Homo sapiens: one gene and its partners. The protein of the gene in region 3 purifies or fractionates together with the protein of the main gene of each other region. This does not show direct contact. Each region holds a gene or a part of one and is shown on either strand. Other genes may lie near its edges.

Evidence for each region. The genes of interacting proteins can lie anywhere in the genome.
Region 1: the proteins of SCAMP1 (region 3) and RAB14 purify together in Homo sapiens (affinity purification with mass spectrometry; one large-scale study listed by BioGRID and IntAct). This does not show direct contact.
Region 2: the proteins of SCAMP1 (region 3) and TAF5 fractionate together in Homo sapiens (co-fractionation; one large-scale study listed by BioGRID). This does not show direct contact.
Region 4: the proteins of SCAMP1 (region 3) and RAB5B purify together in Homo sapiens (affinity purification with mass spectrometry; one large-scale study listed by BioGRID and IntAct). This does not show direct contact.

The regions. Positions count from the first base shown.
Region 1 is NC_000009.12:121,188,370-121,191,869, forward strand, and holds part of RAB14 (ras-related protein Rab-14), read right to left. Parts: intron 2,363-3,500; coding exon 2,185-2,362; intron 1-2,184.
Region 2 is NC_000010.11:103,374,476-103,377,975, reverse strand, and holds part of TAF5 (transcription initiation factor TFIID subunit 5), read right to left. Parts: intron 1-3,500. UniProt on the Homo sapiens protein: The TFIID basal transcription factor complex plays a major role in the initiation of RNA polymerase II (Pol II)-dependent transcription.
Region 3 is NC_000005.10:78,416,117-78,419,616, reverse strand, and holds part of SCAMP1 (secretory carrier-associated membrane protein 1), read right to left. Parts: intron 3,077-3,500; coding exon 2,968-3,076; intron 843-2,967; coding exon 714-842; intron 1-713. UniProt on the Homo sapiens protein: Functions in post-Golgi recycling pathways. Acts as a recycling carrier to the cell surface.
Region 4 is NC_000012.12:55,977,078-55,980,577, reverse strand, and holds part of RAB5B (ras-related protein Rab-5B), read right to left. Parts: intron 1,207-3,500; coding exon of another isoform or gene 1,104-1,206; intron 1-1,103. UniProt on the Homo sapiens protein: The small GTPases Rab are key regulators of intracellular membrane trafficking, from the formation of transport vesicles to their fusion with membranes.

The DNA.
Region 1 (3,500 bases), on a different chromosome or scaffold from region 3:
TGAAGTACACAGAAAAGCCTAGTACCAAAATCATATAAACCATATTACTTACATGTACTATAACTTCTGCCAATGATTCTGGTAATTGTTATTAATTTAATATTCACTATAATTATAATTTTAAATCTATAAATAAATATTATTCAAATATTAATTGGTGGTACTAGTACTAAAAAAAAAGTGCTAAAATACTAGATATGTCAAAATGTTATGGCAAAACAACTGTCACGACAAGCTACGCTGTCAATTTAGAAAAGCACCCTGTAACAATGAGAGTTAATGACAAAAATAAAAAGGGACTTTTACGTTTGTAAAATGTCAAAGAATAACAGAAAAAAATTGCTGTCATGACTGCAACACCAAAGTCACTATAAAGTATCACTTTAGCGCCTGACTAAAGCCTCGGGTACTCTTTTCCAGTAACAGTTTTTATTACAATATAATGAACATATCATAAAGCTTATTCTTTTAAAGTACGTAATTTAGTTGTTTTAAGGATAGTTACAAACCTGTGCACTGATCACCACTATCTAATTCTAGAACATTTTCATCACCCCAGAGAGAAACTCTGAACTCACTTAGAAGTCACTCACTCCCATCCTCTGGCAATCCACTTTCTTTCTCTATAAATTTACCAGAATATAAATTCTCGATATTTCATAAATGAAATCATACAGTATGTGTCTCTTAGTGTCTGGTTTCTTCCACTTAGCATAATGTTTTCAAGTTTCATCTATGTTGTGGCCTGTATCAGTATTTCCTTCTTCCTTATAGCTGAGTAACATTTCATTGTATGGATATATCACAGTGTTTATCCATTCATCAGTTGATGCATGTTCTGGTTGTTCCCAGCTGAAGTACTTTTTTTGATGACTTGAATAGACACAGATTTTACCAAAAGTATTAACTATGCTTAAAAGATATGCTTAAAAGCAAAAACAATATTCTTAGCACACATCACCATACTTAAATTTTATTGAGTTTTTAATTATGTGAAGTCTTCAGAAATGCATTCCTTATAAAATCAGACAGTTCTGCGTAGGCGGCCAGGTTTATTAACAGTCTTCCCATAATACTCTTGATCATATCACAGATTGCCTGGCTATAATGAAGGGCATTAAGGCTTGTTTCCCTTTGAGGCCACCCAATTCTAGAATTTACTGAAAACTTTAGGCACTATAATTATAATTAGTCAATATCTTTATTCTAAGGCAGCATTTCCCAAAGTGTGTTCCTCAATAAAATAAGCTTAGGAAACACCAAATTAAATAAAGTCATACAGCAAAGAATTTCTTACTGCAGAACTTCCCAGAGTCTTAATATGCTAACGCACATTATGACACATCAAGAGGAAACCTTTTAAGGCATTTTCCGAAAGGAAATATGCTTTAAACTCTAATTATCACTTGGTCCCACTCGCCCATCTTTACCCCCAAGAAACAGAGTCACATTGCTTTTGACTGGCACTTTACATCAACATGAAAGGTGATCCAGTTCATTTTCTAGCTTACAGTAGACAAACAGTGCAGGGTCTAATCAAGTGGCACAGTTTTCCATGTTCTCCAAAGTCAAACCTTTATGTACAGTAGTTTTATTACTTTACATCAAGTGCTTTGGAATTCCAGAAACAGTCATGTTGAAATAAATTTAAACCTACTGCATGTAGTATTTGAAGTCATTTCTATCCATTTTAAGAGAAAAAAAAATTAGTAAATAAATACTCAAACACCTTCAGATGCAAGCATAAAGTTTTTTATAATCTACCATGCTGGACTAGCAAAACTCTTTGCTTGGCCTTCTTTTGAGAGGTGTAAACTTTAACACTAGAGACTAAATAGAGTAAGTCCCAAGAGTGAGTTGCTTGCTTTCTACTTAAAAGAACATTTTATATAAAATATTATTTCTCCTCAAATCATTCAACTGAAGCTGCTTTTCAGAACTGTATTCTTCTATTAGCTTCACCCAATAACTAACTCCCTAAATTTTTCTTCAGTCATAAAAACTTTTGGAAAATATCAATGTGTTATATCAAGTTTTACATGGCAACTTAAGAAACCATAAAAAACAAGTAAGTTCATTCACAGTCATACAATTACAAACTAAAAAAAATGCCTATCAATTTTTTTTTAAATGCCCAAAGTAGATTTATTTTCCCCATATGAAGGTTGAAAAATTATCTCTTACCTAGTGATATCATAGACCATAAGAGCTCCCGCAGCTCCTCTGTAGTAGCTCCGTGTAACAGCCCTAAATCGCTCCTGTCCTGCCGTATCCCAAATCTGCAGTTTTATTTTTTGGCCACTAACTTCGATTATTCTTGTACCAAATTCAACACCAATTGTGTGAGGACAATCAGCCATAACTGTTAAGGAGGAAAAAAAGTAATAGCCCAATTTTCAGAAAACTTCAAATTAAGCCTAGAGGGGGAAAATCCACTAAATAAGCAAATGGCTTACTAATACTTACAGGCTATAAATAGACTAAAGCTACCGCTAAAAAAAAAATTAACAAACACCCAGAAGTAAGAAGTCAGGGAAATGTGACTGTACTAGAATCGGGGTCAGCAAACTTCTAGAAAGGACCAAGCAGAAAATATTTTAAGTTTTGCAGGTCAAAAGGTCTTTGTCACAAACTACTCAACTCTGCCACTGAGGCATAAAAGCAGCCAGAGACAATATGTAAAACAGGCATGGTTGTATTCCAATAAATTTTATTCACAAAAACAGGCAGTGACTGGATTTGCCCCACTGGCCACCGTTTGCTGACCCCTCGACTAAAATAATCTGCTAAGTAAAAATAAGGATTTTAATTAATTCTTCACAATATCAACATTATACCATTTAGCCTTCTTACAATCATTATCTATAACAGATCAATCAATGGTCTTGGTACCCTAGGAGTTGTTAGTCAAACAGATTCTTATCCCAGAAAATATCAGTGTCTCAAAGAAAATCAGCATGTTTTATATATATATGCATATATTTTAGAGACAGGGTCTTGCTCTGTCACCCATGTTGGAGTGCAGTAGCACAAGCATAGCTCACTGTAACCTCGAACTTCTGGGTTCAAGCAAGCCTCCCACGTAAGTCTCCCAAAGCACTACTGGGATTACAGGCATGAGCCACCACACCTGGCTAACATATACTACTTATTATACAATGACAAGTTATATATGTCTAAGCCAATTAACAAATTTATTAGTCCTTTCCTTATAATGAGGCCACTTAAAACCTAAACCCACCATTCTCCAGTACAAGGACACAGACTTCTGGGCACTTCATAAAATGTTACATCAAACCTCTGTGGTAAGCAGCACAAAAATGTCAAAGAAATAATTTCAACTATACAGAAACACTTTCAACTATATTTAGCATATCAGTTACAACACATTGGTCCCTTCTATCACCCAAGAAAGAGTAGAAAGAATTCCATTTTAAGTATTTCAAATCTGTTATTTAACAAATGATACATGCAGCAAATTTCTCCTAATAAGACAATCA
Region 2 (3,500 bases), on a different chromosome or scaffold from region 3:
GAAAAATAATATACCCACCATTGGTAGACAGTTTCTTTAGAATGGAGACATTTAAAAGAAACTGGTAGACATTTGAAAATATAAGAACCCTTGCTTTACTAAATGTTATGGTTTCTCAAAACCCACTTTTAAAAGTTTTATTATGAAAATTTCAAAGGCATAAAAAAGAGTATAATGAACTCAATGTACACAGTACTCAGCATCTCAACAATAATCAATATATAACATTCTCATAAAACCCATCATTTTTAATGATTTCCTATATTTATTGGAAACATGTACCAGACATTTTTAAAATATCAATACTTTAATATGATCACTAAACAACAAAGTGGAAGTACTCATTGTTTGGTATCAACAACTATTACCAAAGACAATAAAATAAAGCCTTTAGCCTTGATAACAACTAGTAAACTTAAATGTACTTTTGTTTTTACAACGCTTAATTTTCCTAAGAAAATAAAATTAAAGACAATATATTTGGCATTCACTAAAAACAGCAATCAATGCAAAAACATTTTTAAAACAATGACTAAACATATTAGGGCTCCAGCTCTGATAAGCACATAGTCAACAGATTTCTAAACTGTTAACTATGTTACCCCATTACAACTCATCAATATATGATCTAAGATTTGAATAAAATTAGAAATCTCAGCCTCTTATATCAGTAACTGCCCATTATCCTCCTGTGGTGATGGGGTCCTGGCAAGGGGTGAGACTGTCCATAATGGGAAGACAGAGAATCCCCTATGACGTTCCAGCTTCCTATGTGGGGAGACAGCTACACCATGAGACAGGAAGAGCAAAAAGGTTTTTCCTTCTTTTTTAGAGACAGGTTCTTGCTCTGAAGCCTAAGCTGGAGTGCAGTGGTTCAATGCAGCCTGAAACTCCTGGGTTCAGGGATTCCTCTTGCCTCAGTCTCCCGAGTAGCTAGGACTGCTGTGCCACCATACTCCACTAATTTTTGTTTACGCGATCTCAGCTCGCTGCAACCTCCACCTCCAGGGCTCAAGCAATTCTCATGCTTCAGCCTCCTGAGCAGCTGGGACTACAGGCACGTGCCACCATGGCTGGCTAATCTTTTGTATTTGAGTAGAGATGGGGTTTCACCATGTTGGCCAGGATGGTCTCGAACTCCTGAGCTCAGGCATTCTGCCCGCCTTGGCTTCTCAAAGTGTGGGATTACAGGCATGAGCCACCATGCCCGGCTCAATTTTTGTTTACTTTTTGTAGAAGCAGGATCTCGTTCTTTTGCCCAGGCTATGTTTTTGTTTTTTTAAGTGACAGTATCTATGTTGCCAAGGATGGAGTGTTTAGATGACAGTACTTTAAAGAGAAATTAGCTTCTAGGGTAGAAGTTCTGTCATCAGCCTTTCTTATTTTTTTTTTTTTCAAAAGCACTTGGCTACAGAACATTTTGCCTTATATACTTCCTATTAGGCATCCTAATATAATGAATTTACTATAATGGCATAGAAGCCAGGGGTGCTAAGTTCTACTGTTCCTCTATTACTACTACCCTGTGTTAAGTGATAAATCTTGACTTCAGGCTCTGTTGCTTGTATTAAACATTTCTCATTCAGGCCAGGCCCAGTGTCTCACACCTGTAATCCCAGCACTTTGGAAGGCCAAGGTGGGCAGATCACCTGAGGTCGGGAGTTCAAGACCAGCCTGACCAACATGAAGAAACCCTGTCTCTACTAAAAATACAAAATTAGCCAGGCATGGTGATGCATGCCTGTAATCCCAGCTACTTGGGAGGCTGAGGCAGGAGAATTGCTTGAACCTAGGAGGCGGAGGTTGCAGTGAGCCGAGATGGCGCCACTGCATGCCAGCCTGGGTGACAAGAGCAAAACTCCATCTCAAAAAAAAAAAATTATTCACACTGCTAAGCACGGCCTCCTTTTTTTTTTTTTGAGATAGACTTTCACTCTTCGCCAAGGCTGGAGTGTAATGGCGCAATCTCAGCTCACTGCAACCTCTGCCTCCCAGATTCAAGTGATTCTCCTGCCTCGGCCTCCCAAGCAGCTGGGATTACAAGTGTCTGCCACCACGCCCGGCTAATTTTTGTATTTTTAGTAGAGACAGGGTTTTGTTATGTTGGCCAGGCTGGTCTCAAACTCCTGACCTCAGGTGATCTGCCCACCTCAGCCTCCCAAAGTGCTGGGATTACAGGCATGAGCTACCACACCCAGCCTGCCTCCTTCTTAAATACTCCTTTCCCTTGGCTTCTATAACTCAGCCCTCCCCTGGTTTTCTTCCTGTGTATCTCTTCTACTTGGCCATTAAATTTGGAGCTCCTTGGGCCTAGCCCACTGACTGACTTATTTCATACTCTCCCCTAGTCAACCTCATCCATATCCATCAATATTGCACACAACTCCAATTAATAGTTCTAGTCCCTACCTCTGTTCTGAGCTCTCATATATCATCTACCTATCAACTTGACATTTCTTAAATGAGTCAAAGGCATATTCAAATCAGAACTCAAAATTATTCCAAGGCTGACAAATCAAGTCCTCTTCTAGGGTTTTCTGTGTCAGGAATTGGCTCCCCTATCCAGCTAGAACGGCCAGAAAACTGGAGATTTCAATGATATCTCCATCTCCCTCACCTCCCTAGCCAATCTATCAAGTGTCTCATGACTTTGTCTACTTCTCTTCACCTCCACCACAACCTAGTCCAGTGCTTCTCAATAAGGGTGCTATTAACATTTTGGGCAGGATAATTCTTTGTAAAGTGGGACTACCTAGGTGCACATATTAGAACATTTAGTATTCCTGCTCCTCCGCCCAGTCATTATGACAACCAAAAATGCCTCCACACATTTTCTTTTTTTTTTTTTTTTTTTTTGAGACAGGGTCTCACTCTTGTCATCTAGGCTAGAGTGCAGAGATGCAATCTCAGCTCACTGCAACCTCTATCTCCCAGGTTCAAGCGATTCTCCAGCCTCAGCCTCCCAAATAGCTGGGATTACAGGAGTGAGCTACCACACCCAGCTAATTTTTGCATTTTTTTGAAGAGACTAGGTCTCACCAGGCTGGTCTCAAACTCCTGAGGTCAAAGTGATCCACCCGCCTCAGCCTCCCAAAGTGCTGGGATTAAAGGCGTGAGCCGCAGCGCCGGGCCACCTCTACACATTTTCAAATGGTCTAGTGGAAGGAGCAATTCCACCTCCAGTTGAGAACCACTGCAATAACTTCCAAAACTTGTCCCTATAGTCATTCTATCCCCCATTTGTTTTCCCCACTGCATAAAGGTCCTTTCAAAGTATATATCTAATAACGACATGGTCCTTTAATGACTCTGTAGCAGAAATGACTCTGTAGCAAAAAGGCTTCGCTCTCCCCAAATATCCATTTTTCCTGTCTTCCTCCATAAAAGAAAACCTGAATATCAGCTGGGCACATAGACACTTAGGTAAAGACTACATTTCTTATTTCCCTTGTAGCTAGGTGTGGCCACTGACTGTTAAGATATAAAAGGAAGAAGTGTGT
Region 3 (3,500 bases):
GGTATCAAAATGAGGCTGAGACTACTGTTTGGAATAAAAATGAAACAGAGAGTAAGTGGGAGGTCTGTGCACACAGAGTAAAACTGTTAACGGCTTGACATTTTGTTTCAGTATTCCATGAGTTATTATACTCAAAGTGATGTAAGCATCAGAGCCCCAAACGTATATTCTAATGTTCCGTTCAACAAAATGTCCTGTATTAATTAAGCACTTTCAATAATAAAAGTATCGCAATTGAAAACAAAAAGTAAACTGTACTCAAAGCTATAAAAAGAACACTTAGTTTATGTAATAATTTTATGCCCTTTTAAAAATAGCTAAAACGCCTACATTTAACAGAATTCTTTTAAATGGCCTTCCTCTGCATAAAATTAGTATGCACTATTTTTTCCAAGCAAATCATGTCTAGATAACATCTTTCAAGGAAAAAGAATCTTATAAAATTTTACCCACATGACAGAGAAGTTGTCTTTTCCTCAAAAGAATGCCAGTTCTCAACATACAAGTTTTTCTCAGCCAAGGACTTACATTGTCACATATAGTACAATTCTGAAGTACCTAAATAGGATATGTTTCACTCTGAAATCATGATTATTAAGCTTTATCTATAGAAAAAGAAGACTGGTTTGCTATACTATCCTTGAAATAAAAATGCGGATTTTGACAACAAAAATACAAATTCTAAGCAAAGATGTAAATTGTTGTATACTCACACATCCACAAGTAGTACATAAGCTTTACTGTCTTTTGGAATTCTACAGGAATGTCTACAGAAAAATCCTGATAGAAACAAGGTCCGACAGGAAAATTGCTAGGAAGAGGTGGCCAATTATTTTTTCTACCTGTAAATTTTTTTTAGAAAAAGAAAAGGTTATTTATATTATAACAAATGTGATATTATTTTTTGTTTCATAATAAAGAAAAACTCTATTATGTTAACAAAAGTTCAGAAAAACTGTAGAACTATATCTTTGTATTCCTAGAACTCTGAAAGACAAGCTTTAGATTTTTAAAAAATTTTCTCAGAATATCATCACCTTAGAGCACATTAGATAGTAAAATAATTTTCCAGTGTCATATCATACCATGTTTAGCAGGAACCATTTATGTACAGAAAAAACAAGAAACAAAAAGAAAGCACATATCCAGTGCTTCTACCCTAAAACAGATTTATTTCACAGTCCAAAGAGTCTGGCTGGCATGAAAGGGCCATCCAGTTTTTAAACTTCAATTTTCTCCTCAGCATCTTAAATCTTCAAATATAATTCTGTTATAATTCCTATCTCAAGTGGAGAAAGACTAGCTTCTAATTTTTTCAAGTTTTCTGTTAAGTCCAAGATTAAACCAATACCAAAGAATCAAATTTAGAATACTCAAAATCTGGGAAAAAATAATATCCAAAAGATACATGTACGAAAACCCTACAACAAAGAAAACATGAAACAGTCATGATAAGGAAGCTGAAGAATTATAGAACCTTTAAAAATGCAGAGAAAAACAAATTCAAACTGTAAAGGGAAAAAAATGTGTCTACATAAAGAAACCAGATTAAAAATAAGACTTGAGAAATGGTGGGGGAAATAAAAAATTAAAATAAAGAAGTCAAAACATGAAAATAGCGGGTAAAAACAGCACCTAAGGCCATTTCCCGATTTTAGATGTTATATCCCACAGTTTTTAAAAATTCAATTTTACCTACTTTTCCCAGACCAGGGTAATTTTTATAGAAAGAACAATAACCTATTTCTGATTCTCCCCAATGAGTCTCCTGTGTTCCATTTATCATACTATTCAAATTTCATATAGTTCATTTCTCATACCAATCTCATACTATTTGAGAAGCGGCAGTGAATACTCGTAAAGAAGAGAGGCTCTGGAACCAGAAGTGGCTAGCCACTTACTGGCAAGGTCGCCTTGGGCAACTTACTCTCTCCTCCGAGCCTTAGTTTCCATATCTGTAAAATGAGAATAAAAACTCTATCACCCCTCACAGGATTGTATTGATGATTTAAGTATGAGTTAAGAGGGGAAAAGTACTAAAATGTGCTAACATACTGCAGTCTAATTGTTAATTTCCTACTCTTTGTTACTGTCTTTACTAACATAACTCTCATAGAAATAGTTTGTATTTGCCAGTGCTAAAGAAATAGGATGGATTTTAGTTACAGGTACTTCAGAAACATTGGTCCCAGTTCAACTTTTAGTTTCTCCTTCTATAGATGCTACCTCTGATGCTGCAAGCAAGAAAATGACCCAGGATAAATGTGTTCTCATGAGGCCCTAGACTTACACATTCTAAGTTAAAAAGAAATAGTTCTGTATATTGTTATTGTTCTAGCTTTGCATTGCATCACTATCCCAGACATCCTAACAATGACTTATCTAGCTCTTTTATCTCTTCTTACTCAGAGACTGCTAGCTTTCCCTAAGAGACTCCTTTGAAGTGCTTTGGCAGGCACAAACTTAATAGAATTCACTGCAACAATTCACCACTTATTTCTTTGGCATCATATGAATACCTTAGGCTTCCAATTTTTCTAACATGATTTGACAAAATACTTGCGAGGACTGGGGCAGATAATCTGAAATTAACCTGAATAAATCAGGTAAAAGTCAAATGTAGGGTACATGCAAATGTACTCATAAAGAGTCCACAGAACCAAGGAGGGCCTAACTGCAGAATCAAAGGCTCCTGGCCTCAGAGTAAGCAAAAATTATCATATTCACATTCATTTTCTGTGTGATGAGGCTAACACTGTTCTAAGCTATCAACAAAAGACTATGCAAATCAGCCAAGATTAGAAGGCTACAGAGTATCAAACAGGCAATCTGCTGTGTCTGATCTCCTTGTTAGAACAGGAAAACAGGGTAGGGTTTTATCCACAGGCCAAATGACCTAGGAGCTAGTATAGACATAATGTAAAGTATTTAAAAGTTATTTTTATTTCAAATTTCTTTGGATACTACCATGTTGACTGAGGTTTTGCATTTCTCGTTCCCGACGATCTAATTCTGCGGCTTTTCTTTCTAGTTCTTCCTGGCGCTTAAGAAGTTCAGCTTGGGCCAATGCATGTTCCTAAATAAAAAATATCAATATGTGAATAGACTGTCAGAAGTATAAAATACTTTAACATTTATATGCTAACTCCTACTTCTCTACTATGAGAGAAACCTAATTCAAACACACTTCCAAAGTACAGGAATTTACTGAAGATCATAGTTACAGAAAATATTATGAGGATATTTGGTCCATTTGGTCTTTGGGTTCCAGAAACTCTCAGTGGGAATGTTGGGTCCATTAGGAGAGGAAAACTTCTCTTAGTAAAAGTAGTCACAATCTTTAGGTAATCTGGAAAATGAAATTAAGATGACCTCTATGCCTAAATGAGTGAAGAACAGAGGCAATGGGAACAGTTGAGGAAAATGAACAATAGAAAAAAGGGCAACTGAATTGGCTCCTATTAATCAGATTAAATGATATATAAGGCCACCAATGCAAG
Region 4 (3,500 bases), on a different chromosome or scaffold from region 3:
AAATCCAGTATGAATGTGGATGAGGCTTTTAGTTCCCTGGCCCGGGACATCTTGCTCAAGTCAGGAGGCCGGAGATCAGGAAACGGCAACAAGCCTCCCAGTACTGACCTGAAAACTTGTGACATAAAGAACACCAACAAGTGCTCCCTGAGCTGAGGACCCTTTCTTGCCTCCCCACCCCGGAAGCTGAACCTGAGGGAGACAACAGCAGAGGGAGTGAGCAGGGGAGAAATAGCAGAGGGGCTTGGAGGGACACATAGGTAGATGGTAAAGAGAATGAGGAGAAAAAGGAGAAAAGGGAAAAGCAGAAAGGAAAAGAAGGAAAAGAGAGGAAGGGAGAAGGGAGAGGAATGAATTGAGGAAGTGAACGAAGGCAAGGAGGTAGGAAGAGAGGGAGGAGGAAAGGAAGGAGAGATGCCTCAGGCTTCAGACCTTACCTGGGTTTTCAGGGCAAACATAAATGTAAATACACTGATTTATTCTGTTACTAGATCAGGTTTTAGGGTCCTGCAAAGGGCTAGCTCGGCACTACACTAGGGAATTTGCTCCTGTTCTGTCACTTGTCATGGTCTTTCTTGGTATTAAAGGCCACCATTTGCACAAAAAATAAATAAATAAATAAAAAATAAAATAAAATTAGTCAACTTGTCAAGTGTTACCATACAGCCAACTGCTAAGCAGTAAATGTAGGACTCCTAGTCAGGTACTCCTGCCTCTTATACCACTATACTTCTTAAGGAAGCAGGAAATGCTGAACTCTAAAGAGAACACCAGGACAGGATCGAGAGCTTAGACTGGATAGAGTTCCTGCCTCTATTCAGTTTAGGTAAGTACTTGCTTTGGGACTAAAAACAAATTAAGAAGACCCAGGCCTTCCTTGGCAACTGGGATGCAGTCCCATATCTTTCTGACAGAAGAATTAATTCATCACTACTCTTTTCTAGAAGGTCTATGACCAAACCCTGCCAGGACAGTTGAAATAGAAGCAATTCAATGAGAGGCAATAGGAAAACAAGCGGTAACTTTTGCAGAATTTGGTGGGCCCTGCGATTAATGTGAGAGTTTTACTAAGTAGGGAAGATAGAGCAGAAACCAGTAAATACCTTCATCTCCCTCTCCAACTCTGTTTAAACCCAAGTCACCAAAATCTTGAAATGAGAGTTCTACCACTTGGCTCAGCTCTTCATTTTGTTGATCCAGTGTTACCTAATGAGTCATTGGATTAAATGAGATTCCTTCCACATCTCGCACCCTTTCCCTTATATTTCTCCAAGAGGCAAAAAGCATACTTACCTCTTATCAGTATGGTAGTACAAACTCCCTATTATTGACCTAGGTAAGATTGGAATGCCCGTCCCTACTTGTCTGCCTAGCAAAATTCTATATATCTCATAAGACCAAGCTCAAATGTTACTTCAGTGAAATTACATAATCACCCTCTCCCCCACAGAATTAATCATTCTCTAGAGGCCCGTAGGGTCCCACAGTATTAAGACTGTATTTCTGGCCAGGTGTGGTGGCGCACACCTGTAATCCCAGCACTTTGAGAGGCCAAGGCAGATGGATCACTGGAGGTTAGGAGTTCGAGACCAGCCTGGCCAATATGGTGAAACCCCGTCTCTACTAAAAATACAAAAATTAGCTGGGCATGTTGGCACAGGCTTGTAATCCCAGTTACCCAGGAGGCTGAGACATGAGAATTGCTTGAGCCCGGGAGGCGGAGGTTGCAGTGAGCACAGATTGCACCACTGTACTCCAGCCTGGACAGCAAAGCAAGAATCCGTCTCAAAAAAAAAAAAAAAAGACTGTATTTCTATAATAGTATGTATCACATTATCACAGTATATAAATTGTGTCTGTCTGCTCTGCTAAACTATGAACTTCTTTAAAAGTGGGAGTTTATCTTAAAATCTTCAGAGCACAGCATGCTGCCTGATCCCTAGTAGGTGCTCATTAAATGCTCCCTAAATTAAGGCTAAGTAATTCTACTTCTCTCCCCCAATCAACTCCTCCCTTTCTGTACCATCTGGACAGATCTTACTCAATTCCATTTGGGTTCTTTTTTTTTTTTCCTGAGACGGAGTCTTGCTCAGTCGCCCAGGCTGGAGTGCAGTGACGCGATCTCGGCTCACTGCAAGCTCTGCCTCCCAGGTTCACGCCATTCTCCTGCTTCAGCCTCCCGAGAAGCTGGGGGACTACAGGCGCCCACCACCACGCCCAGCTAATTTTTTGTATTTTGTTTAGTAGAGACGGGGTTTCACCGTGTTAGCCAGGATGGTCTCAATCTCCTGACCTCGTGATCCACCCGCCTCAGCCTCCCAAAGTGCTGGGATTACAGGCGCATGCCACCGCACACGGCCCCATTTGGGAATATTTTTAATAGGCCTCAGAATCAATTCTCTCCCTGGCTCCTCTGTGATCTCCCTTGGATGGAGGGCCCCCTTGGGATCTTGCCCACAAGGTACTATTGCAACTCGCATGGGCTAACTGCTTTTCCTGTCACCCGTTACTATGCCTCAGATGGCCTAATCACACCCAATATGTGGCCCTCCCACCCAAACACTGAGGCAACTATAGCTAAAAACAAAGTTCGCTGAATTTTCAGTTGATGTTGAACGGTCAAAAGCTTTGGGCCACTATCTATTAATTCCTGACTTGAGAAACACAAGTTTAAAAAAAGGAGCCATAACACCACAGAACCAGGAGACACTCTGAAAAGGTACCCACTGTCCCTGAACAGAAGCTACAACCTTGCCCAGAAATGTACACATACTTTGTTCACCTGGGTAGCTCCTTATTCAGTTCAGTTACTGTTGAGTCAATGGCTAAATCTTTCCCAAAACGGAAGTGGGAGTATACCATGTAGGGTTTTATGGTATCCTTCCTCCAAGAGGGCTGCTGCATTTCCTTATTATAAGTTCATTGTCTCACACTTTGGTTACCTTCCAATCTGAAATGCTTTAGGATTAGGGAGCAAACTATACGCTTGCTTCTTCTACCCTATGCCTCCTTCTCAGAAGTAAAATTCATACCAATAAGCAATATTTGCTCCCAGGTAAAGTAAGAGTTAGAAGATATGAGGTATGTTATGCAGTAGGGATTGTCCAGGAAAAAAATTTTAAAAGATATGAGGTATGACTTGAAGGGCAATGGGAAAGCTCTCTTCTCCAAATATATTTTTGCAACTCCAGGTCTATGTATGAAATTCCTTATTGATAATTCTACTCCTAAACTCTCTTAGGATGCAAAAAACTGTTGGAAAAATTAGATAGGATTAAAACACACACACACACACGCACACACGGCCAGGCGCGGTGGCTCACTCCTGTAATCCCAGTGCTTTGGGAGGCTGAGGCACGTGGATCACCTGAGGTCAGGAGTTAGAGTCCAGCCTGGCCAACATGGTCAAATCCCGTCTCTACTAATAATACAAAAATTAGCTGGTCGTGGTGGTGCACGCCTGTAATCCCAGCTACTCTGGAGGCTGAGGCAGGAGAATC